Linked DNA regions of Homo sapiens. The protein of the gene in region 1 interacts with the protein of each later gene in a pairwise test. Each region holds a gene or a part of one and is shown in the gene's direction. Other genes may lie near its edges. The genes, in order: CFTR, UNC119, PTCD1, TRAFD1, MCCC2, YTHDF1 and AHCYL1.

The links.
Region 2: the proteins of CFTR (region 1) and UNC119 interact in binary tests that used the Homo sapiens proteins (3 or more experiments, as listed by UniProt).
Region 3: the proteins of CFTR (region 1) and PTCD1 interact in binary tests that used the Homo sapiens proteins (3 or more experiments, as listed by UniProt).
Region 4: the proteins of CFTR (region 1) and TRAFD1 interact in binary tests that used the Homo sapiens proteins (3 or more experiments, as listed by UniProt).
Region 5: the proteins of CFTR (region 1) and MCCC2 interact in binary tests that used the Homo sapiens proteins (3 or more experiments, as listed by UniProt).
Region 6: the proteins of CFTR (region 1) and YTHDF1 interact in binary tests that used the Homo sapiens proteins (3 or more experiments, as listed by UniProt).
Region 7: the proteins of CFTR (region 1) and AHCYL1 interact in binary tests that used the Homo sapiens proteins (3 or more experiments, as listed by UniProt).

Annotation. Positions count from the first base shown.
Region 1 is NC_000007.14:117,665,025-117,669,696, forward strand, and holds the end of CFTR (cystic fibrosis transmembrane conductance regulator), read left to right. Parts: intron 1-434; coding exon 435-540; intron 541-1,883; coding exon 1,884-2,084; 3' UTR 2,085-3,641; downstream 3,642-4,672. UniProt on the Homo sapiens protein: Epithelial ion channel that plays an important role in the regulation of epithelial ion and water transport and fluid homeostasis. Mediates the transport of chloride ions across the cell membrane.
Region 2 is NC_000017.11:28,545,677-28,549,624, reverse strand, and holds the end of UNC119 (protein unc-119 homolog A), read left to right. Parts: intron 1-919; coding exon 920-1,033; intron 1,034-1,523; coding exon 1,524-1,626; intron 1,627-1,775; coding exon 1,776-1,948; coding exon of another isoform or gene 1,949-2,001; exon of another isoform or gene 2,002-2,215; coding exon 2,216-2,328; 3' UTR 2,329-2,917; downstream 2,918-3,948. UniProt on the Homo sapiens protein: Involved in synaptic functions in photoreceptor cells, the signal transduction in immune cells as a Src family kinase activator, endosome recycling, the uptake of bacteria and endocytosis, protein trafficking in sensory neurons and as lipid-binding chaperone with specificity for a diverse subset of myristoylated proteins.
Region 3 is NC_000007.14:99,424,949-99,428,979, reverse strand, and holds part of PTCD1 (pentatricopeptide repeat-containing protein 1, mitochondrial), read left to right. Parts: intron 1-3,363; coding exon 3,364-4,031. Other genes in the region: ATP5MF-PTCD1 (ATP5J2-PTCD1 fusion protein), read left to right, coding at 3,364-4,031. UniProt on the Homo sapiens protein: Mitochondrial protein implicated in negative regulation of leucine tRNA levels, as well as negative regulation of mitochondria-encoded proteins and COX activity. Also affects the 3'-processing of mitochondrial tRNAs.
Region 4 is NC_000012.12:112,128,352-112,132,382, forward strand, and holds part of TRAFD1 (TRAF-type zinc finger domain-containing protein 1), read left to right. Parts: intron 1-2,159; 5' UTR 2,160-2,171; coding exon 2,172-2,218; intron 2,219-4,031. UniProt on the Homo sapiens protein: Negative feedback regulator that controls excessive innate immune responses. Regulates both Toll-like receptor 4 (TLR4) and DDX58/RIG1-like helicases (RLH) pathways.
Region 5 is NC_000005.10:71,593,465-71,597,495, forward strand, and holds part of MCCC2 (methylcrotonoyl-CoA carboxylase beta chain, mitochondrial isoform 1 precursor), read left to right. Parts: intron 1-2,815; coding exon 2,816-2,900; intron 2,901-4,031. UniProt on the Homo sapiens protein: Carboxyltransferase subunit of the 3-methylcrotonyl-CoA carboxylase, an enzyme that catalyzes the conversion of 3-methylcrotonyl-CoA to 3-methylglutaconyl-CoA, a critical step for leucine and isovaleric acid catabolism.
Region 6 is NC_000020.11:63,194,784-63,199,517, reverse strand, and holds the end of YTHDF1 (YTH domain-containing family protein 1), read left to right. Parts: intron 1-2,783; coding exon 2,784-2,810; 3' UTR 2,811-4,089; downstream 4,090-4,734.
Region 7 is NC_000001.11:110,018,734-110,022,764, forward strand, and holds part of AHCYL1 (S-adenosylhomocysteine hydrolase-like protein 1), read left to right. Parts: intron 1-141; coding exon of another isoform or gene 142-186; exon of another isoform or gene 187-317; coding exon 318-386; intron 387-814; coding exon 815-893; intron 894-1,997; coding exon 1,998-2,118; intron 2,119-2,940; coding exon 2,941-2,947; coding exon of another isoform or gene 2,948-2,993; 3' UTR 2,994-4,031. UniProt on the Homo sapiens protein: Multifaceted cellular regulator which coordinates several essential cellular functions including regulation of epithelial HCO3(-) and fluid secretion, mRNA processing and DNA replication.

The DNA of each region.
Region 1 (4,672 bases):
CTTGCTAAGAGTCTTGTGTTTTCTTCCGAAGATAGTTTTTAGTTTCATACAAACTCTTCCCCCTTGTCAACACATGATGAAGCTTTTAAATACATGGGCCTAATCTGATCCTTATGATTTGCCTTTGTATCCCATTTATACCATAAGCATGTTTATAGCCCCAAATAAAGAAGTACTGGTGATTCTACATAATGAAAAATGTACTCATTTATTAAAGTTTCTTTGAAATATTTGTCCTGTTTATTTATGGATACTTAGAGTCTACCCCATGGTTGAAAAGCTGATTGTGGCTAACGCTATATCAACATTATGTGAAAAGAACTTAAAGAAATAAGTAATTTAAAGAGATAATAGAACAATAGACATATTATCAAGGTAAATACAGATCATTACTGTTCTGTGATATTATGTGTGGTATTTTCTTTCTTTTCTAGAACATACCAAATAATTAGAAGAACTCTAAAACAAGCATTTGCTGATTGCACAGTAATTCTCTGTGAACACAGGATAGAAGCAATGCTGGAATGCCAACAATTTTTGGTGAGTCTTTATAACTTTACTTAAGATCTCATTGCCCTTGTAATTCTTGATAACAATCTCACATGTGATAGTTCCTGCAAATTGCAACAATGTACAAGTTCTTTTCAAAAATATGTATCATACAGCCATCCAGCTTTACTCAAAATAGCTGCACAAGTTTTTCACTTTGATCTGAGCCATGTGGTGAGGTTGAAATATAGTAAATCTAAAATGGCAGCATATTACTAAGTTATGTTTATAAATAGGATATATATACTTTTTGAGCCCTTTATTTGGGGACCAAGTCATACAAAATACTCTACTGTTTAAGATTTTAAAAAAGGTCCCTGTGATTCTTTCAATAACTAAATGTCCCATGGATGTGGTCTGGGACAGGCCTAGTTGTCTTACAGTCTGATTTATGGTATTAATGACAAAGTTGAGAGGCACATTTCATTTTTCTAGCCATGATTTGGGTTCAGGTAGTACCTTTCTCAACCACCTTCTCACTGTTCTTAAAAAAACTGTCACATGGCCAGGCACAGTGGCTTACATCTGTAATCCCAATACTTTGGGAGGCTGAGGTGGGGGGATTACTTGAGGCCAGGAATTCAAGACCAGCCCAGGCAACATAGTGAGGCCCCATCTGTCTTTATTAAAACAAAACAAAACTGTCACAGCTTCTTTCAAGTGATGTTTACAAATTCCCTATGGTTTAGTCACAAGGAAGTTCTGAGGATGATGTATCACGTCATTTCTGTTCAGGCTTTTGAGCCTCCTGGAGGTAAATGGTTTCCTTACTGAAGGCTTGTTATTACCATGATTATCACTAAGCTTGAAGTAACAAATTAGGGGGGCAGACTCACAACCTCTTGCCCTGCCATGGACAAGTTCAAGAATCTAAGTAAAGTCCTCTATTGTCTGATCTTGGATTTGCTCAACCTGAACAAGCCAAGGAGGTGTATTAAACTCAGGCACATCCTGACCAATTTGGAATTCTTAAGCTTCAGATCACTGTGGAAGAGGCTCAACTCTTTATGGTGCTGTAGACTTACGCTCATTTTCTAGGTAATTTATAAGGGACCTAATATTTTGTTTTCAAAGCAACTTCAGTTCTACTAAACCTCCCTGAAGAATCTTCCAGCTGCTGAGTAGAAAATCACAACTAATTTCACAGATGGTAGAACCTCCTTAGAGCAAAAGGACACAGCAGTTAAATGTGACATACCTGATTGTTCAAAATGCAAGGCTCTGGACATTGCATTCTTTGACTTTTATTTTCCTTTGAGCCTGTGCCAGTTTCTGTCCCTGCTCTGGTCTGACCTGCCTTCTGTCCCAGATCTCACTAACAGCCATTTCCCTAGGTCATAGAAGAGAACAAAGTGCGGCAGTACGATTCCATCCAGAAACTGCTGAACGAGAGGAGCCTCTTCCGGCAAGCCATCAGCCCCTCCGACAGGGTGAAGCTCTTTCCCCACCGGAACTCAAGCAAGTGCAAGTCTAAGCCCCAGATTGCTGCTCTGAAAGAGGAGACAGAAGAAGAGGTGCAAGATACAAGGCTTTAGAGAGCAGCATAAATGTTGACATGGGACATTTGCTCATGGAATTGGAGCTCGTGGGACAGTCACCTCATGGAATTGGAGCTCGTGGAACAGTTACCTCTGCCTCAGAAAACAAGGATGAATTAAGTTTTTTTTTAAAAAAGAAACATTTGGTAAGGGGAATTGAGGACACTGATATGGGTCTTGATAAATGGCTTCCTGGCAATAGTCAAATTGTGTGAAAGGTACTTCAAATCCTTGAAGATTTACCACTTGTGTTTTGCAAGCCAGATTTTCCTGAAAACCCTTGCCATGTGCTAGTAATTGGAAAGGCAGCTCTAAATGTCAATCAGCCTAGTTGATCAGCTTATTGTCTAGTGAAACTCGTTAATTTGTAGTGTTGGAGAAGAACTGAAATCATACTTCTTAGGGTTATGATTAAGTAATGATAACTGGAAACTTCAGCGGTTTATATAAGCTTGTATTCCTTTTTCTCTCCTCTCCCCATGATGTTTAGAAACACAACTATATTGTTTGCTAAGCATTCCAACTATCTCATTTCCAAGCAAGTATTAGAATACCACAGGAACCACAAGACTGCACATCAAAATATGCCCCATTCAACATCTAGTGAGCAGTCAGGAAAGAGAACTTCCAGATCCTGGAAATCAGGGTTAGTATTGTCCAGGTCTACCAAAAATCTCAATATTTCAGATAATCACAATACATCCCTTACCTGGGAAAGGGCTGTTATAATCTTTCACAGGGGACAGGATGGTTCCCTTGATGAAGAAGTTGATATGCCTTTTCCCAACTCCAGAAAGTGACAAGCTCACAGACCTTTGAACTAGAGTTTAGCTGGAAAAGTATGTTAGTGCAAATTGTCACAGGACAGCCCTTCTTTCCACAGAAGCTCCAGGTAGAGGGTGTGTAAGTAGATAGGCCATGGGCACTGTGGGTAGACACACATGAAGTCCAAGCATTTAGATGTATAGGTTGATGGTGGTATGTTTTCAGGCTAGATGTATGTACTTCATGCTGTCTACACTAAGAGAGAATGAGAGACACACTGAAGAAGCACCAATCATGAATTAGTTTTATATGCTTCTGTTTTATAATTTTGTGAAGCAAAATTTTTTCTCTAGGAAATATTTATTTTAATAATGTTTCAAACATATATAACAATGCTGTATTTTAAAAGAATGATTATGAATTACATTTGTATAAAATAATTTTTATATTTGAAATATTGACTTTTTATGGCACTAGTATTTCTATGAAATATTATGTTAAAACTGGGACAGGGGAGAACCTAGGGTGATATTAACCAGGGGCCATGAATCACCTTTTGGTCTGGAGGGAAGCCTTGGGGCTGATGCAGTTGTTGCCCACAGCTGTATGATTCCCAGCCAGCACAGCCTCTTAGATGCAGTTCTGAAGAAGATGGTACCACCAGTCTGACTGTTTCCATCAAGGGTACACTGCCTTCTCAACTCCAAACTGACTCTTAAGAAGACTGCATTATATTTATTACTGTAAGAAAATATCACTTGTCAATAAAATCCATACATTTGTGTGAAACTTTGTTGTTTTCAGATGCGTTCACTTGTCATGTTTCATCAGTCTCTCACTCCAATTTCTAAGCTTCATGGAACATGAAACACGAATCTGTCTTTTAGATATAGCCTCTTTTGAGAATTCACATGAATTAGAACACACATTTTTAGTTATCTGTTTAAACTATGGTAAAATATACATAACATAAAATTTTCCATTTTAACCATTTTAAAGTTCAGTTCAGTGTCATTAGGTACATTCACATGGTTGTGCAAATATCACCATCATCCTTCCACAGAATTTTTTTCTTGCAAAACTGAAACTCTTTTTACCCGTTAGTCAATAATCCCGCATTTATCTTTCCTCTAATGCCTGGCAACCACCATTTTACTTTCTGTCTCTGATTTTGACTACTCGAAGGACCTAGGAGTGGGATCATACAGTATTTGTATTTTTGTGCTTATTTCATCTAGCATAATGTCTTCAAGCCTCATCCATGTTGCAACATGGGTCAATTTTCTTCCTTCTTAAGGTTGAATAATATTCATTATAGAGTAGTCCCCCCTTATCCTTGGGGAATATGTTCCAAGACCCCCAATGGATGCCTGAAATCACTGATAGCACTGAACCTGATTACTGTGTTTATTCCTATACATACACACATACATATGATAACATTTAATTTATAAATTAAGCACAGTAATAGATTAACAACAATAATCATAAAATAGAACAATTATAACAATATATTATGACACGAGCGATACAAATGTGGTCTCTCTCTTTCTCAAAATATCTCATTATACTGTGCCACAGGTAACTGAAACCACAGAGAGCAAAACCTTGGATAGGGGGACCACTCTATAAATATGTACCACATTTTTCCTCACCCATTCATCCATCACTGGCTACTTGGTTTGCTTCCACTTTTTGGATATAGTGAATAATGCTTCTATAAATATGGGTGTACAAATGTTTCTTCATGTCCCTGCTTTCATTACTTAGGATATGTTTGAAGTTATTTTTATTTTTAAATGGAGGCTTATAGAACACAA
Region 2 (3,948 bases), on another chromosome or scaffold:
CCAGGACTACTTTCTCCATGGTGGTGGCTCATAGCCAGGGCTGCGTAAATGACCTCTAAGGGGGTTCTCTCTGCTTGCTAAGACTTCCTCCCATTTGGAGATCAACAAAGGATGAGAGCAAAGTTGGCCTCCTCCCACCTGCCATATCCCAGGCTCTGGGCTTGAGTCAGCAGAGCTTTGGTTAAGCTGCTTAAGGGAGCTGGGCTGGTGTAAGCTTCTTACTGAGAGGAGGGGGTTTGGAGGAGAGGAGGAATAGGGAAGGGGTTGTTCACCTGCCCCAGCCCCACCCATATCAGGGAAAGTCCCCTTAACATCAGCCTCACCTGATACATCTAGATGTCATGCCAGGGGCAGCTGTGGGGTGAGGGTAGGAGTATCCTCCAGAGAAGGACAGTGACTCTCCCAAGACAGAGCTGTGTGGCCCCCTTTACAGGTGGTTCTCAAAGGCAGGGTACCAGAGAAGTTGATACACTGAGTTGCAGTAGAAGAGACAGGTCAGACTGCAGGAAGTTGTTCCCATATGAGAAGAGAGGCTCCCACCAGGCTGGATACCTAATTCTCCCAAAGTCATCTAGCCAGCCTTGGCAGAGCGGAGGCCAGAATGAGGACCCTCAACTCCAGAGTGGGAGAGAGAGTGTTCAGGAGGTGGCCTTGTCCTCTACCCTTCTCTGCCCTGCCCTTCCCTGGCCCCCAGAGACCAGTAGGATGGCACTCCTTATCCCCTGTTAGATCCCCATGGCGGAGTTATGTCTCTTCCACACTGGGGGTGTACCCCAAGGGCAGGGACTGAGGTCCCTCTTTCCAGAGGGCAGTGATCCCAGGGATGAGAAGATGGTAGCTACTCTGGGGTCCCACACAAGCTGACCTGGCAGCAGGGGCTTTGCGGCCCCTTCCTTGCTCAGCTGCCTGTTTCCCCTAGACTACCTCTGCTCCCCTGAGGAGAATATCTACAAGATCGACTTTGTCAGGTTTAAGATTCGGGACATGGACTCAGGCACTGTCCTCTTTGAAATCAAGAAGCCCCCAGTCTCAGGTGAGTGGGCTGGGTGGGCCATTGATGGGGAGGCAGATAGGAGCTGCGGAGTGGGCTGCCCAGGGAATCCTTGGGCCACAGAGGAGTCCACAGAGCTGGGGCTTGGACCCCAGCATTCTCAGGAGTCTGCAGGCAGGGGGGCCCTTTCTTTTCCTTCCCATATGTTTCTGAGGCTGGACATCTTGCGAGGTCAGCCCTACCCCTTCGGTCCCTGCCAACCTGCCCTCTGCAGGGCTCTCTGGGAACTGCAGTCCTACGGGTCCCAGGCCTCAGCATCCTGTGGCCCGGGGAAGCACAGTGGCGATTGGGAACATGCAGACCTAGAACCCCTAGGTGGCACTATTTGGCCAATGGTCTGAGCCCTCAGTGTGCCCCGGAATTTCTTGGGGAGTTTAAAAAAAATCAGATAGATGGGGACCCAAGGGTAGAACCCTGGGTGGACAAGGGCCCAGCCTGAAGCCCACTGAGCCCCAGCTGGGGTACATTGCAGAACGGTTGCCCATCAACCGGCGGGACCTGGACCCCAATGCTGGGCGCTTTGTCCGCTACCAGTTCACGCCTGCCTTCCTCCGCCTGAGGCAGGTGGGAGCCACGTGAGTCGCTGGGCTATGGGTGGTGGTGGGGGTGAGGGAGAGGGTGTGAGTGGGCCCTTCTCAGCCTCTCGTAGGGGTGGCCTGTCCTGAGCCTGGCTGGCTAGTTGACTTCAAGGACAGACTTAGCCCTGCCTCCTTTTCTTGCTCAGGGTGGAGTTCACAGTGGGAGACAAGCCTGTCAACAACTTCCGCATGATCGAGAGGCACTACTTCCGCAACCAGCTACTCAAAAGCTTCGACTTCCACTTTGGCTTCTGCATCCCCAGCAGCAAGAACACCTGCGAGCACATTTACGACTTCCCCCCTCTCTCCGAGGAGCTGAGTGCGCGGGCAGGGTCTTCTGGGAGTGGGGAAGTGGGGGCGTCTAGAGACTGAGCTGCGGGAGGGAGAGGGACTTGTGGGTCTGATCCCATTTCTCCCCACCCTGGGGCTCTTCTGTGTCTGCCACCATTCCCATATCATCCGTAGAGAAAGAGGCTGGGGATATTTCAGGCTGTTTGGCTGTCCCTGTACCCCAGTCCTGAAGCCCCTGCAGTGGCGGGACTCAAGCTCCTGACCTTTGCCCGGCCTGGCTGGGCCTCTCTTGCAGTCAGCGAGATGATCCGCCACCCGTATGAGACCCAGTCTGACAGCTTCTACTTCGTGGATGACCGGCTGGTGATGCACAATAAAGCAGACTATTCCTACAGCGGGACACCCTGACCCCACGGCTGCCCTGACCCCAGGAGGCTCCAGTTCTGGGCTGGGAGCTGTGACCTCCCCAACGCTCACCCCTCAACCCCAAGTCCTCTGCTTGGGGAGTTCTCCAGGAGCTCCGGACCCTGAGTCAATGTTGGGAGGAAGGGTACCTGGTGTCCCCAGTCAAGCCCATGAAGCCCATGCGGCCTGCTACATGGGGTGGGGTCGTAGGGAGGCTGTTTGCCTCCACGTCTAGGAAGGCCTGTGAGAGGAGCAGTCAGGACTTCCGGACAACTTAGCTGGGCCCTACTTGGGCCCAAGTTTCAGAATAGTGTTCCCCTATCAAGGCTGTGACTAGATCAGGCAGGGATCCATTCCCTGTCCCCTGCCCACTACCTTCAGGCCATTTAGAGTTGTAAATTTACAAAGATCCACGGTGGGCTCCAGCTGCCAAGCCACCCAAGGGAGTCTGGGCCCTAGGCCTAGCCCCATCCCTCCCCATGAGGGGCCAAGACACTGCCTAAGGTGTGGGAGGGACTGGCTGAGATTGCAGCCCATGGTAGGAGCTGGACCAACTGTATATAGTTTTCAATAAACTTTTTCCTTTTCTGTTCTCTGGTGTGGCCAGCCTCTGTGTGTATGGGCAAAGAAGGGAGCAGGGATAGGCAGGAATGTGCTTAAGGCAGTAAAAATTTCTCCTACCTCCCACATTCCAGTGCACTCTCACCCCTTAGTCTTCCTGTCCCCTGATTCTCTGTACCCTGACACCATATAGAGTCAGCATTTAGAACATGATGGAGCTGGAGAGGGTCTTTCTTGTGATGAAGGAGACCCAGACCCTGAGAGGGGAAGCTTTGGCCCAAAGTCAGAGCCAACCCTGGCAGAACAGAGGCCGAAACAAAGGCCCTGAACTCCAGGGTGCAAGGGGAAGGTGTGGGGGGTGGGGGTTTGGCCTTGTCCTCCACGCTACCTTCCCTGAACCCCAGAGGCCACTAGGACCACTGGGTTGTGTTTTTAGCCCTCATGATAGACGGTGGCAGGGCTTTGGCTAAGGCCTGGAGCCATCTCCTTGCCCTCAGCTGCCTTGGGGAGCCCCCATGCCTGGGTAGCCCTGCACATAACACTGCCCTCAGCCTCCACCCCCACCCCAGACTCAGAGGAGGGGGCTGCTTAATGGAGGAAATTCAGGAACTGAGGTGGGCAGAGAGCACACCCTACAGTTTCAGGCCCTCCTTCAGATATGCCCAGAGCTGACGCACCCTCTGGGCTGAGGAGCTCTGGCCCTAGGAGGCCCAGAAGTGCTGGCATTCAGCTTGATTCTGTGAAGCCCTTGCTGGGGGAAGTGGGGTGGAGCTAGGATCTGCACTGAATTCTGGGAATTCTGAAATGAGTGAGACACAAGGAACACATACTCGTCCCTAGGGAAAAAAAAAGGACTGGGGACACGGAGAGCAAGAATCAGAGTCGTTCTGTGTGGAGGGTTCTGGGGAGGATTTTTAGAGGAGGTAGCACTGGAGCAGGTGCTTGTGATGGAAATTGATGGGGAAGAGTGCTTAGGCACAGGGAACAGCATAAACAAAGGCTCAGAGGCAAGATTTGTCAGGTGTTTGTTTGTTTGTTTACTTATTTATTTGAGATGGGGTC
Region 3 (4,031 bases), about 18 Mb from region 1:
AAACCCAGCAGCCACTGTAGCCTCCATTCTACAGATGGCAGGGAGAGGAGGCCCTTGGAGATGGAATGAGGGTGGCCCCCGCCCCTCCCACCCTGCTTTGCAGTCGGCTTAGCCCCTCTAAACTCACCTTCCTTGAAAGCCTGCCACACACTCACCTGGGGACTTGTTCAACCCTCCCACACCCCCATTAGCACTTCTGCAGGTGCAACCCAGGAGTCATTCATTCATTCATTCATTCATTTATTTTGAGATGGAGTCTCACTCTTGCCCAGGCTGGAGTGAGCGATCTTGGCTCACTGCAACCTCCGCCTCCCAGGTTCACGCGATACTCCTGCCTCAGCCTCCCGAGTAGTTGAGATTACAGGCGCCCGCCACCACGCCCAGCTAATTTTGTATTTTTAGTAGAGACGGGGTTTCACCATGTTGACCAGGCTGGTCTTGAACTCCTGGCCTCATGTGATCTGCCCGCCTGGGCCTCCCAAAGTGCTGGGATTACAGGTGTGAACCACAGCTCCCCGCTGGAGAGCTTTTTTTTTCTTTTTCTTTTTAATGTTTTTAATTTTTTTTTTTTTTTTTTGAGATGGAGTCTTGCTCTGTCGCCCAGGCTGGAGTACAGTGGCATGATCTCGGCTCACTGCAAGCTCCACCTCCTGGGTTCACACCATTCTCCCGTCTCAGCCTCCTGAGTAGCTGGGACTATAGGCGCCCACCACCATGCCCAGCTAATTTTGTTTTTGTATTTTTAGTAGAGACAGAGTTTCACCATGTTAGCCTGGATGGTCTCGCTCTCCTACCTCGTGATCCGGCGCCTTGCTCTCCCAAAATGCTAGTATTACAGGCGTGAGCCACCGCGCCCGGCCAATTTTTTTTTTTTTTTTATTGATCATTCTTGGGTGTTTCTTGCAGAGGGAGATTTGGCAGGGTCATAGGACAATAGTGGAGGGAAGGTCAGCAGATAAACAAGTGAACAAAGGTCTCTGGTTTTCCTAGGCAGACGACCCTGCGGCCTTCTGCAGTGTTTGTGCCCCTGGGTACTTGAGATTAGGGAGTGGTGATGACTCTTAAGGAGCATGCTGCCTTCAAGCATCTGTTTAACAAAGCACATCTTGCACCACCCTTAATCCATTTAACCCTGAGTGGACACAGCACATGTTTCAGAGAGCACAGGGTTGGGGGTAAGGTCACAGATCAACAGGATCCCAAGGCAGAAGAATTTTTCTTAGTACAGAACAAAATGAAAAGTCTCCCATGTCTACTTCTTTCTACACAGACACGGCAACCATCCGATTTCTCAATCTTTTCCCCACCTTTCCCCCCTTTCTATTCCACAAAACCGCCACTGTCATCATGGCCCGTTCTCAATGAGCCGCTGGGCACACCTCCCAGACGGGGTGGTGGCCGGGCAGAGGGGCTCCTCACTTCCCAGCAGGGGCGGCCGGGCAGAGGCGCCGCTCACCTCCCGGACGGGGCGGCTGGCTGGGCGGGGGGCTGACCCCCCCCACCTCCCTCCCGGACGGGGCGGCTGGCCTGGCAGAGGGGCTCCTCACTTCCCAGTAGGGGCGGCCGGGCAGAGGCGCCCCTCACCTCCCGGACGGGGCGGCTGGCCGGGCGGGGGGCTGACCCCCCACCTCCCTCCCGGACGGGGCGGCTGGCCGGGCGGGGGGCTGACCCCCCCACCTCCCTCCTGGACGGGGTGCTAGCCGGGCAGAGGGGCTCCTCACTTCCCAGTAGGGGCAGCCGGGCAGAGGTGCCCCTCACCTCCCGGACGGGGCGGCTGGCCGGGCAGGGGGCTGACCACCCCCACCTCCCTCCCGGACGGGGCGGCTGGCCGGGTGGGGGGCTGACCCCCACCTCCCTCCCGGACGGGGCGGCTGGCCTGGCGGGGGCTGACCCCCACCTCCCTCCCGGACGGGGTGGCTGCCGGGCGGAGACGCTCCTCACTTCCCAGACAGGGTGACTCCCGGGCGGAGGGGCTCCTCACTTCTCAGACGGGGCGGCTGCCAGGCGGAGGGGCTCCTCACTTCTCAGATGGGGCGGTTGCCAGGCAGAGGGTCTCCTCATTTCTCAGACGGGGCGGCCGGGCAGAGACGCTCCTCACCTCCCAGACGGGGTCGCGGCCGGGCAGAGGCGCTCCTCACATCCCAGACGGGGCGGCGGGGCAGAGGCGCTCCCCACATCTCAGACGATGGGCGGCCGGGCAGAGATGCTCCTCACTTCCTAGATGGGATGGCGGCCGGGAAGAGGCGCTCCTCACTTCCTAGATGGGATGGCGGCTGGGCAGAGACGCTCCTCACTTTCCAGACTGGGCAGCCAGGCAGAGGGGCTCCTCACATCCCAGACGATGGGCGGCCAGGCAGAGACGCTCCTCACTTCCCAGACGGGGTGGCGGCCGTCTTGGCACTTTGGGAGGCCAAGGCAGGCGGCTGGGAGGTGGAGGTTGTAGCGAGCCGAGATCACGCCACTGCACTCCAGCCTGGGCACCATTGAGCACTGAGTGAACGAGACTCCGTCTGCAATCCCGGCACCTCGGGAGGCCGAGGTTGGTGGATCACTCGCGGTTAGGAGCTGGAGACCAGCCTGGCCAACACAGCGAAACCCCGTCTCCACCAAAATAATACAAAAACCAGTCAGGCGTGGTGGCGCGCGCCTGCAATCGCAGGTACTCGGCAGGCTGAGGCAGGAGAATCAGGCAGGGAGGTTGCAGTGAGCCGAGATGGCAGCAGTTACAGTCCAGCTTCAGCTGGGCATCAGAGGGAGACTGTGGAAAGAGGGAGAGGGAGACCGTGGGGAGAGGGAGAGGGAGACCGTGGGGAGAGGGAGAGGGAGAGGGAGAGGGAGACCATGGGGAGAGGGAGGGGGAGAGGGAGAGGGAGAGGGAGAGGCCCGGCCAATTTTTTAAATGTTTTACAGTTGTTTTGAGACACTCTCGCTCTGTCACCCAGGCTGGAGTGCTGTGGCATGATCACGGCTCACTGCAACCTCGATCTCTGGGTTCAAGTGATTCTCCCACTTCAGCCTCCTGAGTAGCTGGGACTGTGGGCATGCAATACCACACCCAATAATTTTTGTATTTTTAGTAGAGATGGGGTTTCACCATGTTGGTCGGGCTGGTCTCGAACTCCTGATCTCAAGGAGTCTGCCTGCCTTAGCTTCCTAAAGTGTTGGGATTACAGGCGTGAGCCACCGCGCCTGGCGTATTTTTTTGAGGCAGGGTCTTGCTATGTTGCCCGGTCTTGTCTCGAACTCCTGATCTCAAGGGATCCTCCCATCTAAAACTCCCAAGGTGCTGGGATTCCAGGCGTGAGCCCTGCGCCCAGCTGCTGAATGGGAGCACCCAGCTGACGTTTGTCTCTTCCGTGGCAGGTGTGGCGGCTGATGCTGAGTCTAGGGCTACAGCCGAGCCGGGACAGCTACAACCTGCTGTTGGTGGCAGCTCGGGACTGTGGCCTAGGGGACCCCCAGGTGGCCTCAGAGCTGCTTCTGAAGCCCAGGGAGGAGGCGACTGTGCTTCAGCCCCCAGTGAGCAGGCAGCGGCCAAGGAGGACAGCCCAGGCCAAGGCAGGCAACCTCATGTCAGCCATGCTGCATGTGGAGGCCCTGGAGAGGCAGCTGTTTCTGGAACCTTCTCAGGCACTTGGGCCTCCAGAGCCTCCGGAAGCCAGAGTGCCCGGCAAGGCCCAACCAGAGGTGGATACTAAGGCAGAGCCCAGCCACACAGCAGCCCTCACCGCAGTGGCCCTGAAGCCACCTCCCGTGGAGCTGGAAGTCAACCTCCTGACCCCCGGGGCCGTTCCCCCTACAGTGGTCTCCTTTGGAACGGTGACCACCCCAGCTGACCGGCTGGCCTTGATAGGGGGCCTGGAGGGCTTCCTGAGCAAGATGGCAGAGCACAGGCAGCAGCCCGACATCAGGACCCTCACGCTACTGGCCGAGGTGGTGGAGTCCGGGAGTCCTGCAGAGTCCTTGCTGCTGGCCCTCCTGGATGAGCACCAGGTAGAGGCCGACCTGACATTCTTTAACACGCTGGTGAG
Region 4 (4,031 bases), on another chromosome or scaffold:
ATGTTTTGAAAAGTGGCAACTCGCTTGATAATGCCAAAACCTTTAAAGAACCCTACTGGGGGCAGGATTTAAGACCATTTTTGTATCATGGAAAGGAATAATCTAAACTAAACAATGGTAGTAAAGTTGCCAGTGCTTTGCTTTCTGCATTGACATCTTGTTTAAAAAGCAGGAGAAACTTTATAGTGAAGAAATTTGGCAGACACCATATCAACTATGTGATCATGGTTTACATCAATAGTAAAATAAGACTGTTGACATCATGTACCTTCTGATATAAGGCACTGAGATGAGCACAACATGATTTCTATGGTGTTCTTGCCAAAAATATATAACCTGAATTTAATCATGAGAAAATATCAGACAAACCCAAATTGAAGGATATTATATAAAATAACTAGCTGGCTGGGCACGGTGACTCATGCCTGTAATCCCAGCACTTTGGGAGGCTGAGGCTGGCTGGTGGATCATATGAGGTCAGGAGTTTGAGACCAGCCTGGTCAACATGGTGAAACTCCATCTCTACTGAAAATACAAAAATTAGCTGGGCATGGTGGTGCACACCTGTGGTCCCAGCTACTCAGGAGGCTGAGGTCGAGGTTGCAGTGAGCCGAGATCGCAGTGAGCCGAGATCGCACCACTGCACTCCAGCCTAGACAGCAGAGTGAGACTCTGTTTAAAAAAAAAAAAAAAAAAAAAGCCAGTATGCTTAACAAGGTCATGAAAGAGAAGGAAAGACTGAAGAACTCTCCCAAATCAAAGGAGATTAACTACAAGTAATAGCCAAATGCAGTGTGTGATCCTAGATTGAATGCTGAACCAGAAAAAGGGTGGGATGGTGATTTTTTTTTTTTTTTTTTTTTTTTTTGAGACAGGATCTCACTCTGTCACCCAGGCTAGGGTGCAGTGGTACAATCACTGCTCACTGCAGCTTTGACCTCCTGGGCTTAAGTGATCTTCCCATCTCAGCCTTCTGAGTAGTTGGGACCACAGGTGTGTGCCACCACGTCTGGCTAATTTTTAAATTGTTTGTAGAGAAGGGTTTCACCATGTTGCCCAGGCTGATCTTAAACTCCTGGGTTCAAGCGATCCTCTTCAGCTCAGCCTCCCAAAGTTCTGGGAGTACAGGCATGAGCCCCTGTGCCTGACTTGTTGGTGAAATTTGAATGAATTCTATAGATTAGTTACTAGTATTGTATTAGTGTTAATTTCCTCTATTTGATAATTTTACTATTGTTATGATGCTTTTAGGGTAATTGGATGAAGTCTGTAAGGGATGTTATTTTATTTTTATTTATTTATTTATTTTTGAGACGGAGTCTTACTCTGTCGCTAGGGTGGAGTGCAGTGGCACGATCTTGGCTCACTGCAACTTCTGACTCCCTGGTTGAAGCGATTCTCCTGCCTCAGCCTCGCGAGTAGCTGGGATTACAGGCATGCGCCACCACACCCAGCTAATTTTTGTATTTTTAGTAGAGATGGGGGTTTCACCATGTTGGCTAGGATGGTCTCGATCTCCTGACCTTGTGATCTGCCTGCCTCGGCCTCCCTAAGTCCTGGGATTACAGGTGTGAGCCACTGCGCCTGGCCAGGATGTTATTATTATTATTATTTTTGAGACAGGGTCTCACTCTGTCACCCAGGCTGGAGTGCAGTGGCATGATCATGGCTCTCTGCAGCCTTAAACTCCTAGGCTTAAGCATTCCTCTTGCACATTCCTCCTGCCTCGGCCTCTCGAGTAGCTGGGACTACAGGCACACATCACCATGCCTGGGTAATTTTTTTTTTTTGTATTTTTTGTAGACATGACGTTACCCCATGTTGTGGCCAGGTTGGTCTTAAACTCCTGGGCTCAAGTGATCCGCCTGCCTCGGCCTCCCAAAGTACTGAGATTACAGGCATGAGCCACTGTACCCAGCCTAGTAAAAGTATTTTATTTTATTATTTTTATTTTTTAAAACTCCCTTATCCAATAAAATTATTTTAAATTGAAAATTTTAAAATAAGAAAATCCCAAGGGACTGGATATTGAATAAAATGCTTTAACATGCAGGTTTGGGTGACAGTTTCTGTATACTAGTTTTTTATTTGTTTTTTTGCATGTCATCTTTAAAGCAGAAATGAAAGAGAAAGTTCATGTCTTCCTTTGTGGTTTTCAGGAAGAGCTAAAGATGGCTGAATTTCTAGATGACCAGGAAACTCGACTGTGTGACAACTGGTAAGACATTAAATCTAAGAAATGTTAGTGGAATGAGGACAGTCAAGCTTAATCACTATCATTTCCTGATTTAAAAACTGTTAGTGAAGACTGGCACAGTCTTGAGTTAAGCTTTCTATTTTGGTGTTTATAACCCACATGAATTACAAGAAAGAGCATCTCTTTCCTGATGAAATGAAACCGGTTGTAAAGTTAATAATCAGCTGGTTCCTGTTGGGGTTTTCCTAAGAACTTATCTTGGTATCTTGGTGCTATACAAGTGCTGTTACTGTAAGCTGACAAAAAAAGCAAAGCAGAACTGTCTGCTATGTTTATTACTTTATTTTCCTTCACTGGGTACTTCTTTCACAATGTGCTATGTTTACCTTAGCAAACTGTGGTAGAAAGAGATGTGGAATAAGGAAAATAGTTTAACTCATTGGTGGAATATTTGAGCCAAATAACATTTTTGTCATCATCGTTGTCTTTTTCTTTCTTCTCAGCCTAACTTTGGCAGAATTAGAATATAATTAGAGCAACAGCTGGTTACAATATTCTTTACCTGCTTGGAATTAAGATTTCATCTCATTGTAGGTGTCTTGCCATATTGTAGAGTATTTCTGCTATGCCACTATCACTTTCTACCATTTCATAAACTATTTTAGTTTTGTTTGGGTTTTATATGTATAGCTACTGAAACAGAGTAATCAGAAACAAATAATCAAAAGAAAACATGATTTTGTAAGAAAAGAGACACATTGGTTTTTAGCATTAGTTAAGATACACCTATTTTATCAGTCCACTCCAATTAGGAGGAATCTCAAGCCTAGGACAAAATATAAATAACTATGCTAAGAGAGTTAAAGGGTGAGTTAATGGAAAGCTAGTGAAAAACAATGCTATTCAAAGCCAAAGAAATTAAAGAAAAAAGCAGATTAGCATAGAAGGCTGACTAAACCTGTAAAGAATTAATTTCTGGCTGTTTGTGTTTAGTGTTTGGAAAGTTCTTGGGAATTTTTCTGGAAGCTTTGGTTTGCCTTTCAGCTATTTCTATCTAAATGAAATTTCACCTCTAATTTGCTAGCCCTTCCTTGAGACTTTTAGCAGTTTTATCTGGATACGGAATTGTGTGCTCATTTATCTCACTTAAAACATCTTCATTTTCTCCGAAGGTAGGAAGTAAGCATATTAGTATTTGGTCTGGTTGGAATGTTTGGTAGGAATATGTTGGCAGTTAAATTTTAAAAGAAAAAAACCCAGCAGGCAACTGTTTTATATAATTGTTGCAAATATCTTTTTTATTTCAGCATTTCCTAAGAGGTGAATATGTGCAATAGTAAATGCTTTGTGGTCTTACTTGACAGCTGCTTTTGATTCTTGTTGCTTCATATTATGATGGTGTGGTCCTTAATATTTTTTGTTTTAATTCTAAAGTTTTAGGGGCCTTGTGTATGTAGTATGTCAACAAGTTATCCTGAACAGCCTTGTAAAGTAAATGCTAGACATTTAGTGTCTCCATATTTACCATTAAAATAAAAATTATTGCCAATATTATGAAAAAGGAACCCAGGTTTTCTACACCCTAAGCAGTAATTACTGGCTTTAATTTTCATGGCATTTGTACATACATGATTTACAATCACAATATAACATTTCTTCTTTCACTTTGTTGGTATACTATATGTAACTTAGCTATTCCTTTCTTGCTTAGGTATTTTTAATGACTTTCATTTTTTACCATTCTATGATACTGTAATGAAAATATTCATACATAATCCCAAGAGTAGGATTATTGTGTTACAGAGTATATAATTTTATGGTCCTAGAAATGAAT
Region 5 (4,031 bases), on another chromosome or scaffold:
TTTTTCTCTTCATAGAGTACTACCACTTTTGGGGGGAAAAGTAAAGATTCAAATTCATAAATTTTATGAATAAATAATTTATTTTTAATTTTTATTAATTTTTTTTTTAAGAGATGGGTTCTTGCTCTATTGCCAGGCTGGACTGAACCCCTGGCTCAAGCGATCCTCTCATCTTGGCCTCCCAAAGTGCTGGGATTACAGGTATGAGCCACCACACCTGGCCAGTGATTTCTTAGTAGGCATTTAATATTTCCTCCCTAAGTGCTGAATCTCAGATGGAAAGCATTCTTCATATTTGATAGACTGTTTCAGATAACTTTTATCAACAAGTATATAATACTTAAAATTGTATATAATACTTTTAATGTAAAATTTTACATTTAGGTTAGAGTAGTTTAAATACTGGATCTCAGGAGTATAAAAATAGTGAAGAAGACTGGATTTGGAAAGTATGGTCTAGAATTGCTTATTTACTAGTTTATTTAGAGACAGGGTCTCCTCACTCTGTTGCTCGGGCTGGACTCGAAGTCGGGAGCTCAAGTGATCTTCTTGCCTCAGCCTCCCAAGTAGCTGAGACTGTACCTGTGCCCCTGTACGCAGCTATGGAATTCATACTTTTGAAGCCATTTTAGATCAAGGTGTTGTCTCCAGAAAAAGAATTCAAACTCTTGCTGAAATGAAAGTGTTTTGTTAGGGGTGATAACTCAATTGTTATGCCCATTTTGAGAGTTTGATTTGGTGAACTCACTGTCCCCCTTAGACATTAAGATGGTGGGTTTTGGGGCCAGGCACAGTGGCTCACGCCTGTAATCCCAGCACTTTGGGAGGCCGAGGTGGGCGGATCACATGAAGTCAGGAGTTCGAGACCAGACTGAGCAACATGGTGAAACCCTGTCTCTACTAAAAATACAAAATTAGCTGGGTGTGGTGGCGCATGCTTGTAATCCCACCTACTCGGGAGGCTGAGGCAGGAGAATTGTTTGAACCTGGGAGGCGGAGGTTGCAGTGAGCCAAGATGGTGCCATTGCACTCTAGCCTGGGTAACAGAGCGAAATTCCGTCTCAAAAAAAAAAAAAAAAGAGGTGGGTTTGACTCAATGGAGGGTTGAGGAGTCCTGTGGCATCAGGTGCCTGCTGGGGATGGTGGATGCTGAGGAACCGTGGTGCAGGCTGGTGGCCACAGGAGGGTAGAGGACTGAGCCGGACTCCCTGGGGAAGGAGGTAGGGAGAAGGGGGAAAGGACAAACTTGGCTGTCACAGCTTTGCCAAGAATTAAATGTCAGGGGAGCTTAATTATGTGCTCTGTGAGCCTGCATCAAGGATAACCCTCTTTCTGGTTCTTCCTAATAAAACCAGAATTCACCAGCTGCTCCAAATTGTAAGGCCCCACTCTAGACAGAATTGCTAAAGAGTGATGTTGTCTTAAGTCTCTCTCTTTTTTTTTTTTTTTACTGAGACGGAGTCTTGCTCTGTCACTCAGGCTGGGGTGTAGTGGCGCGATCTCAGTTCACTACAACCTTGGCCCCCCGGGTTCAAGCGATTCTCCCGCCTCAGCCTCCCGAATAGCTGGGACTACAGGCATGCACCACCACACCCAGCTAATTTTTCATATTTTTAGTAGAGATGGGGTTTCACCATGTTGTCCAGGCTGGTCTCAAACTCCTGGCCTCAAGTGATCCACCCACCTCAGCCTCCCAAAGTGCTGGGATTACAGGCATGACCCACCTGTCACTTTGGGAGGTCAAGGCAGGAGAATTGCATGAAGCCAGGTGTTTGAAACCAGCCTGGGCAACAGAGTGAGACCTCATCACAAAAATTTAGCTGGAGTGGTGGCACATGCCTGTAGTCCCAGCTGCTGGGAAGCCTGAGGTGAGAGGATCACTTGAATTTAGGAGTTCAAGGCTGTAGTGAGCCATGCTGGCACCACTGCACTCCAGCCTGGGTGACAGAGTAAGATCTTGTCTCAAAAAAAAAAAAAAAAAAGGTCCTACTTGGAAGATCGTTTGAGATTATTTTCTTGCCTAAATAAACAAAGAAATAGCTTTCTGAAATAGCTGAACATTTCATTAGACAAAGACTATATTAAGATGAAATTCTTGGACACCAATAAAAATAAACTAATGTTTTAATTATTAAAGGTACAATTTGATACTTCTGTTCTTGCTCCATTACCTTGGTTTGCCGAGAGTGGGTTATAGATATTCCCAAGAATACTCCAGTGGGCTCTTCAGTTATAATTTTCTTTGTCTGTCATGATGTGAGCAATGTTGAGAAGCACTGAAGACAATCTCTGAGTCAAGGAAGGGGACTTTTAAATTGCTAAAGTGTTCAACTCACCCAGTTGCAAGCCTAAAAAGTTACGGATCACTAATGTCATCTTTAGGTAAATTTACTGCACTTATCATGGAAGTAATTTCTAAAATTTTATTTTTACCTGGTACAAATGAAGATAGGAATTTTCCAGATCTATCATAGCATGTATTTAATAAATGTGGTGGAGATGAGGCATTATTTGCAATATGTGAGCTGCAGAGAAAATACTCTGTAATTTATGTAACTACTAGTGAATTCAGAACATAGACTCTAGGATATACTCTAAAATCAGGGATAGATTGATTTTTTTTTAATACCAGTTTTTACATTTACTTCAGAAAATTGGCAACTTGTAAGTTGAGTGAATGATTATTAGCCTTTTCTCAGAGGATATGTTGAACTTTTAAAAAGTGCTATATTTTGGATTAAGTATTATGTTTTTCTGGCATTGAGACCTTTTTATCGTGTCAATCTAATCTAATCTAATCACATTTCTATCATAGGAGGTGGTGAGAAAGCCCGAGCACTTCACATATCAAGAGGAAAACTATTGCCCAGAGAAAGAATTGACAATCTCATAGACCCAGGGTGCGTACATAGCCAAGTACTGACTCAGAGTGTTCTCTGTTCCATAGTACTTTATTAGACAGTCTTGTAAATCAGTTATTTTGAATTCTAGTTCTCATCGTAAGATTCAGGAACATGTGTTTATTGAGAGCCTACTATGTGTCAAGCACTATGTGTTGACATGTTTATTGAGAGCCTACTATTGGTCAGGTACTAGTGATATATCAGTGACCAAAACAGACACAGATCTTTGCTCTACTAGAGTTTACATCATAGCAAAGGGAGACAGAAAGCAACAGTAAAGACTGTAACTTCTGGCTGGGTGTGGTGGCTCACTCCTGTAATCCCAGCACTTTGGGAGGCCGAGGTGGGCGGATCATGAAGTCAGGAGATTGAGACCATCTGGCTAACATGGTGAAAACCCGTCTCTACTAAAAATACAAAAAATTAGCTGGGCATGGTGGCATGTGCTTGTAGTCCCAGCTACTCGGGAGGCTGAGGCAGGAGAGTCGCTCGAACCCCAGAGGCAGAGGTTGCAGTGAGACGAGATTGTGCCACTGCACTCCAGCCTGGGTGACAGAGCGAGACTCTGTCTCAAAAAAAAAAAAGATTGTAAATTCTGTAGTGTGTTAGTAAGTGACAAATGTCATGAGAAAAAGAAAAGGTGGCCCAGGGTAAAGGAGAGGAAGATATAGGGCAAGTTGCAGTTTTAAGAGGTGGTGCCAAGGTAGGCCGCATTGAGAAGGTGATGTCTGAGCAAAGATTTAAAGGAGGAGAGAGAGAGAGAGAGCCTTGTAACTCTCTGGGGAAAGAGTGTTTCAGGCAGAGGGAATGGCCAGTGCAAAGGCCCTGAGGTGGGAGTGTGCCAGGTAATGCTGGTATGCTCAAGGGGCAGCCAGGAGGCTGGGGTGGTTGTGGTGGAGGGAGTGAGGGGAGAGGAGTAGGAGATGGGTCAGATCCTGTATGGCCTTGTGGGTTATCATAAAGGTTTTGGTTTTCACCATGGGAGAAATGGGGAGCTATTGTAGGGTTTTGAACAGGAGATGATTATGATCTGACATAGCTTAAAAGAGTGCTTCTGGCTGCTGTGTTGTGAGTAGATGGAGCAGCAAGGGTGGAAGCCCTGTGACCAGGTAGAGGGCGATTGCAAGG
Region 6 (4,734 bases), on another chromosome or scaffold:
AGACAGAATCTTGCACTGTTGCCCAGTCTGGAGTGTAGTGGTGTGATCTCGGCTCACTGCAAGCTCTGCCTCCTGGGTTCACACAATTCTCCTGCCTCAGCCTCCCGGGTAGCTGGGACTACAGGCCCTTGCCACCACGCCCAGCGAATTTTTTGTGCTTTTAGTAGAGATGGGGTTTCACCGTGTTAGCCAGGATGGTCTCGATCTCCTGACCTCGTGATCCGCCCGCTTTGGCCTCCCAAAGTGCTGGGATTACAGGCGTGAGCCACTGCGCCCGGCCGAGTCAGTGCAGTTTTAAGAACAAAGTAGTGTGCCGAGGAGAGGGTTGTGCGCCTGTGCTGGTAGAGCCCCCGGGCGGTTTTCTCAAGGTTCTCTCAGGACTTCGAAGAACAGACCCACCTTTTCTTTATCATTTAGAGTTTGGCCCCATTGCTGTAAAGGTCATAAACAAGTTGAGTGTTGAGAAAGTGAAGTAGAGTTAGCATTTTGCAAGATTGCTGTCCAGCTATAAATTTAGAAACATACTGATTTCTTAGGATGGCAGTAGCTTTTATGGCAGCAGAGTCAGACCAAGTCCTGGGTTGATACATTTTTTGGTTTTAAAAAAACCTAGAAACGGCCACTTCTTAGCTTAAAACAGTGAAAGTGGTGAGCGTCCCACACTGTGAGCATTGCTTAGTTCCTCAGACTGACTGTCCTTGCCCTGGCGGCAGGTGCCCCTGACCTGACCCCACTTCGACCTCCAGGCCGGCTCAGCAGAGTGGCTCTTTGACTTTGGAAATTAAGAAAGAGCATAGAGAATCTTAGGCCATAAGCATTTCCTGGATGCTTGTTGAGCATTCCTCAAAAGAACGAGCTGTGCTTCGTCATTTTTTTTTTTTTTGAGAAATTTTATGAGGAATAGTATTTTTTAAAGAGCACATAGTAAACTTTGTAGCTGTTTATAAGGGCTGAAGGGAGATGGGGATCTGGGGAGTTTACCTGTGAGTGGCTTTAACATCAGCTATTTGAACTCAAGAGATTGGTATTTGCTTTTTAGGAACAGCAGTACCTCTTTTGTTAAGAGATTGATTGATTGAGAGTTTCGCTGTCTCCCCCAGGCTGGAGTGAAGTGGCACAATCTCAGCTCACTGCAACCTCTGCGTCCTAGGTTCAAGTAATTCTTGTGCCTCAGCCTTCAGAGTGGCTGGGATTACAGGCGCCGGTCACCATGCCCTGCCAAATTTTTTTTTTTTTTTTGTATTTTTAGTAGAGGTGGGGTTTTACCATGTTGACCAAGCTGGTCTCAAATTCCTGAGCTCAGGCAATCCACCCACCTTGGCCTCCCAAAGTGCTAGGATTACAGGCATGAGCCACCACACCCAGCCTGGGAAGAGATTTTTTTTAACGGAGAATGTTTAAGAGAATGTAAAATACAGAGTTCTTAATTTTTCCAGTTTTACATTTGAGGGTAGGGAGGAAATGTTAATTCTTAAGAGTAGGACCTGCCTATCCAGGTCCTTAATCCAAATACTCTGGAGCCTTCTCGGGACAGGGAACACCACATCTGCTTCTGAGAGCAGCCACAGTTGAGGAGGCTGGTGTTTATTCCAGTGCCCAGCAAAGTTTATTATTAACCGGAAGACACATTCAGTCCATTTTTAGCAAAAGAGGAGGTTTCAGGTTAAATGTTTGGGTGTCCTGCCCGCTGGTTTTCTTTATTAGTTTGCATCTTGATAGATGGCCAGATGAGGGTGGATGTGCCTGGGATGCATCTTTTTGTTTTGTTTTTATTTCGAGATAGGGTCTCTCTCTGTTGCCCAGGCTGGAGTGCAGGGCAGATAATAGCTCACTGCAGCCGAAAACTCATGGGCTCAAGCGATCCTCTCGCCTCAGCCTCCCGAATAGCTGGGATTACAGGGTGCGCCACCACACTCGGCCTGGGACACCTCTCTAGCAGAGTGGTGCAGCGTGTGCTCCTTAGATCGCACATTTTCATCTTTGTATGCTGCCTTGTAAGGAGACTGAAGGGGCTTCTAGACCCTGCTACTCAGGGAGGCCAGTGTGGGAAAAGATTCGGGTGTAAGTCTCAAGCTTGTGTGTCACATACACTCTGGAAAAGATGATTCTCTTACGGGAGTGGGCAGCAAACCTGGTCAGAGGAGCTTTGCCTTGAGCCAGTCTAGCCGTGGGGGAGTGGGGAGGGGCATGCTCTTCCCCTTGGCGTGGGAGTGAGCTGGGGAGTGGGAAGGGCCTGAACTGGACAGGCCCACACCGGTCCTCCTGCCCTTCATTAGCCACATGACACAGCACCTTGTTAGCCAGTTGGAAGGATTTTGGTGTCCTTTGTGCCACTGAGAAGTTTAAATGAGATAAAATACAGAAGAACAGCTTCTGTCTCCCTGGCCTCCTTGAGAGCCTGGTGCGTGCCAGCTCCTCCCTCTGAGTGCAGAGAATTTCACATTGCTAAGTGTCTTTCCATGTGGAATGATAGTGGCACATGAGGGAAAGACAGCTGTGGGAAGTGAGGCTTCCCAGCAGACAGGTGGCCCATGTGACCGTTGTGGTTGATGCTTTTCTCCTGGTAGAGGGGGTGGGGAGAATGCCATGCCCAGTGTGGCCAGTCCCCCACAGAGCAGGCCCCAGTGCAGCTCAGAGTTGTGTGCTGGTGTGGCTTGGGTACCATTCAGGGTCCCGCCTCCAGATTTGCAGGTGCTGCTAAGGGGCAGCCTCGGATCTCACTTTTGGGAGGGATTCATTGGTGTGGTTACTCTGCGTTCAACTTTTGTTTTTTCTTTTTACAGGAACGGCAGAGTCGAAACAAACAATGAGGGCGAACCAGTTTCTTACATGTTCTAACGTTTGACTTTGAAAACAGTTTAAAACACGTGTGCTTGGTCAGCTCCAGTGTGTCGTCCCGTGCGGGGGTTGAGTGTTGCATCTTTGCCTTTCTTGTCGTTGATTTTTGCCCAGATGGATCTGCATTTATTTGTACTTTTTCTATGTATTATAATCCTGTAGAAGTCACTAATAAAGGAGTATTTTTTTTGTCAGCTTATCAATCAGACTGATCTAATGTGAAATGTAAGTATCCTTAAAAACAAAGCATCTATTTTGGCAGAAATTGTGTTCTTAAATTCAGTCATTTGATATTCTGTGAGACTTCATATTTCTCATCCCTTTATTGCTTTTTAGCAAACATAAGAAACCATGAGTCATTTTGTCATTTAGAGTATTCTGATAAAATCTCTTGAAAATACTGAAATCAAAAGGTTAATGATTTTTTGTTCATTCTGATTTGTCATTTTATTATCTGTTATCGGTCTAAAGTGCTAATTTACCCATTTGATTTTTCTGCTAGACAGATAACTTTTAATTTTTCAAATTTGGCAGACACTTTTTTTTTTTTTTTGAAAATCTTTCCTTCCAGATCTGTTGCCCACTGAACAGCCACCCGTCCCTCACTGTCCTGGTGTCCGATTGGGCTGGATGGTGTTGGGGCATGATGTGTGGAGGAACTGGAAGGTGCTTTAGGTCTGGTTCAGGGTCGGGCATTCTTTGTTGTTTGCACATCTTTTTAAATTTTACACCTTTTCTTAAGAATTCTAATGCCGTCTTAAGTTTTTATACCAATAATGCTGAGCTTTAAGTGTAGGATCTGGTAGTACAGACAGTGTGATGGATGATGCTGCTGGTTGTAAATTTCATCGTGTGTGTCTAATTTTTTTTCCTGTTGAATGGGTAAAAACAAAACAAAACTTTTTTTAGAAGATGAATTTGCTGTCATGTTTTGTGGAATGAGGGACCGTTGAGCTCACTACCACCTGGAGTTTGAGTTGAAGCATGAAAATGGTGCCCATGCCTGACGCTCCAGCGCCTGGATCTGCACGTGCCCTTGTAGAGGATCCTTACCGTCCTAGAGAGCAGACGCTTTCTGAAAACTACTTGCTCCAAAAGACCCTCTGAGTTAACGTTTCAGCTGTATCATTAGACTTGTATTTAGAGCGTGTCACTTCCTCTGAACTGTTACTGCCTGAATGGAGTCCTGGACGACATTGGGTTTTTCCTCTAGGAGAATACAAGCCTTAATAAACAATACTATTTAGCAAACTTGGTGTCACCTCATTCTTCACCCTACTTGATGAGTTTATGTGTTGGAGCTTTTTAAGCTGCAGAGCCATTCGGGGAGTCACCGTAGAAAGCCCTGTGTTTCTCAAGGTGTGGGATTCTCGTTCCCTCGCTTTGGAAGAGGGAGCTGTTAATTTCCTTAAGACTATAAACTACATGGCACCGTCACCCACCCCTCATCACATGAATGTGCAGACGCAGCGGTGCGTGCAGCACCTGGGCACCGCTACCCCCTTTCTGGACTTGGCTCCTCACCGTCTCTCTCCATTCATCCTCCAATGCCTCTTATTATTTATGCAATAAGAGTTTAATACCTGTTTAGTTTGTTTTCCTTTTGAGGTAAAATTTATAAGCAGTGAAATGCACATTGTGTACATCTGCAGAAGTTGACAAGTATGTGATAAAGTTATGCAATATTAGCCTCAGCCCAGAAAATCCTGAGCTCAGGCAATCCGCCCGCCTTGGCCTCCCAAAGTACTAGGATTACAGGCACGAGCCACCACACCCAGTCTGTGAAGAGATTTTTTTAACAGAATTTTTAAGAGAATGCAATGCAAAATACAGAGTTCTTAATTTTTCCAGTTTTACATTTGAGGGGTAGGGAGGAAATGTTAATTCTTAAGAGTA
Region 7 (4,031 bases), on another chromosome or scaffold:
AGGCCTATGTTTCCCTGAATTTTATCTTTGGAGAGAGAGATATTTCACAAATTGGTCCCCAAAATAAAACCACTTTAAAAAAATCTACTTTTTACTAAGTAACACTATTTCCTAACCACAGCTGATTCTTTAACCTTTCAGACTCAGATGGATTTGCAGAAAATAGGAAAAAGCCTAGAGTCCTGATCTGGAACTGTAATTCTTCCTCTTCCAACTGAGTCTAGAGGGGTGTAAAGTCCTCTCCCGCTTTGGCTTGACTTGTATGCCATTGGAATCTGAGACAGAGCTCATCCCAGGGCTCTCTCTTACCTTTCCAGGGTCGTCTACTCAATTTGAGCTGCTCCACAGTTCCCACCTTTGTTCTGTCCATCACAGCCACAACACAGGTATGTGGCAAAATGCCTGCTTACACTGCACTGCAATTTGTGGAACTGGGCGTAGATCAGTTCCAGTGAGGGTGTACTGTACTATGTTCTCATCATCCTATTCTTTTTTGATGTAATAAATTGTGGAAACAGGTATTCTTAAGTATAGAAAAGAGTCACTAAGTCAGTATTCGTTGAATTGGCTGTTTTAGTTGAGAATATAATGTTCCAGCTTAGTTTTATTTGATTTGTTCTTTCGTTAGGAACTAAACAAAAACAACAAATCCTCTTAGGATGTGTGCTGCCCTTTAGTATAGGCAAAGTCCTAGGTACTGTGACTGTGGTAGATCACTGTAGTACTTACCCAAATGCTGTTTAACCTGGTTTTATTTTTATGTGCCTGTCTAAGAAATATTTTTGTGCTTTCTGGCCTTCTTTTCCCACCTTAGGCTTTGGCACTGATAGAACTCTATAATGCACCCGAGGGGCGATACAAGCAGGATGTGTACTTGCTTCCTAAGAAAATGGGTGAGTGAAAAACAGTGGAAATCTATGCAGACAGCTGCATAGTTTGGTAAAATGACTGCCATGAAAGGCATTGGATTTAGAGTCAGAGTTCCAATTCCTGTTCCTGTGCTTACTGGTTGTTTGACCTCAGGACAAGTTCTAATCTCTATGATCCTCAGTTTCTTGATTGGTAAAATGAAAATAATACTACATACATTGTAGAATTGTGTGAGAATCACAGCTAATGAGTAACAGTGCTTAACACAATGGTTTAGGGAGATGTTCTTACTCTAAGTAGCCTTATGAAGTTCAGTAAACTTCCCAGTGCAGCTGAGTACATACAGCCTTGGAACAAAATGAGAGAAACAAACACAGGTTTTATTGTCCATTTTCTGTGAGGATATGCAAACCATCCAATCTCTTGTAAGCAACCCATGCTGTGTTCATGTGACATAATACATCATCTCTAGTCCTTTGCCTTTCTGCACGGTGTACCCATCTCCCATATCTCCTTGGCTAGCCCAAATCCCTGACTTCTTAATGCTAAAATACTTCTTGCTCTCCTCTCCTCCAATAGCTTACTTCAGACTTTTTTTTCAGTGTATAATTATAAAAGGGAAGCTTATCTATGGAAAAGTAAAAATTCTGTGCCGACTACCTTAGAAATTCATGATCCTAAGATCCATGGATCTTATCCTAAATGAGTGTTATTGACACAGGGTCTTTCTAGCTTACTGGTGTCCACTTTGATTGCTAATTTGACTATAATCTAGTTAAGGAGGTTGCTGCAGGAAGGTAGGAGTAGCATGTGACATGTGGGCCACTGCAGGGAAGCCCCCTGCTTTGCCAGAGAAGGATAGAGAGGTAAAAGCCCACTCCCTTTTGTTACCCTGGTAAGTGGCTTTTCTGAACGCACTGTACATGTGCTGAGAGAAGCATCCTGCCCAGAAAGGCAGCTTTGAGGTTTTTTTTTTAATTAAGCAAATATTTCAAGTTGTGGATTCTTTCAGAGTTATTCCATCCCTTGTCTGCTTTCTTAAAAAAGCTTCAAATGAAAATGGGAAGTTATAACTTGAGAGACATTTTGAAAAGGAGTCTGCTCTCCTGCCACTTTGCTCTTCCTAGATGAATACGTTGCCAGCTTGCATCTGCCATCATTTGATGCCCACCTTACAGAGCTGACAGATGACCAAGCAAAATATCTGGGACTCAACAAAAATGGGCCATTCAAACCTAATTATTACAGGTAACCTGGGGAGAAGCAAGTGAAAAGCTCTTTTTCCCAGTATTAAACCAAGCAGGCTAGCCTGCTTCTGACATAAAGATCAAATGTTGTACCTGATTTTGAAGAATACAAGAAATCTGTTCCAGGCCAGGCACGGTGGCTCACGCCTGTAATCCCAGCACTTTGAGAGGCCTAGGCGGATGGATCACTTGAGGTCAGGAGTTCAAGACCAGCCTGGCCAACATGGCGAAACCCTATCTCTTAGCCGGGTGTGGTGGCGGGCACCTGTCATCCCAGTTACTCAGGTGGCTGAGGCACGAGAATCACTTGAACCTGGGAGGCGGAGGTTGCAGTGAGCTGGGATCATGCCACTGCACTCCAGCCTGGGTGATGGAGTGAGACTCTGTCTTAAAAACAAACAAACAAACAAAAAAACTGTTCCAGTTAACAAGGTAGATAGAGAAATTGTGGGAGATATCAGGGAGTTAGGGTTTTTTTGAAATTTTGGAGCCTGGGCCTCACCCTAAGAGATTCTGATATATTTGGTCTGCGATGGGACCAAATTTACAAAACATTATTTTGTAAAACCTCCCCAGATTATTGTAATGTTTAGTCAGGGTTGAAAAAACACTGACTCATTCCTGGGAACAGGCGGTAACACCAGAAATGGCATTGTCAGAGACCCTGTGGAAGAATAAGGGAGACTGGTGCCCTGGGGAATGACTGCAGGGATCCCACCCAGGCTGGGGAGGGGCCCTGGAGAAGGTGCTCTGTTTCCGATTGTTTTTTGGAATTCTCATATGGAAGACATAAGTGTTAACCAATCACTCTCTCTCTTTACAGATACTAATGGACCATACTACCAAGGACCAGTCCACCTGAACCACACACTCTAAAGAAATATTTTTTAAGATAACTTTTATTTTCTTCTTACTCCTTTCCTCTTGATTTTTTTCCTATAATTTCATTCTTGTTTTTTCATCTCATTATCCAAGTTCTGCAGACCACACAGGAACTTGCTTCATGGCTCTTTAGATGAAATAGAAGTTCAGGGTTCCTCACTCTAGTCACTAAAGAAGGATTTTACTCTCCCAGCCCAGAAAGGTGATTCTTTCTTTACCATTTCTGGGGACTTTAGTCTTAATTAGGTACCTTATTAACAGGAAATGCTAAGGTACCTTCTCTGTGGAACAATCTGCAATGTCTAAATCGCCTTAAAAGAGCCCATTTCTTAGCTGCTGAAATCAGTGCTCTTTCACTTCTTCAGAGAAGCAGGGATGGTACCTACCCGGCAGGTAGGTTAGATGTGGGTGGTGCATGTTAATTTCCCTTAGAAGTTCCAAGCCCTGTTTCCTGCGTAAAGGTGGTATGTCCAGTTCAGAGATGTGTATAATGAGCATGGCTTGTTAAGATCAGGAGGCCCACTTGGATTTATAGTATAGCCCTTCCTCCACTCCCACCAGACTTGCTCATTTTTCGAGTTTTTAACTAGACTACACTCTATTGAGTTTAATTTTGTCCTCTAGGATTTATTTCTGTTGTCCAAAAAAAAAAAAAAAGAAAAGAAAAATTAAGGAGAATTTTTGGTGTTAATGCTGAGGAATTGCTTGAGTGGTTAGTTGTTACCAATTTCTCTTTTGAACCTTTGGAGCTAAGGATGCTGAGTCTAGAGAAATGCTAGTCTCAAGCCCTGTTAAGTCCCTCTGTTTCTAGCCCGTAGTTCATAGCATCAGTGAACTGGAGCCACAACAGCAAATTCTATCAGCTGTGTACCATACAGCTTGTGCTGAAGGCGAATTTCTTGAGCCATTACTCAGTATAAAGCACTGAGTTCTATCTTTAGGATTTATCTTTAAGAGCAAATTTCTGGTCAGCTGTGCTTCTGCAACCTAAAATATTTAAAGGGAGGTAGGTGTGGGCAGGAGGAGGAATGA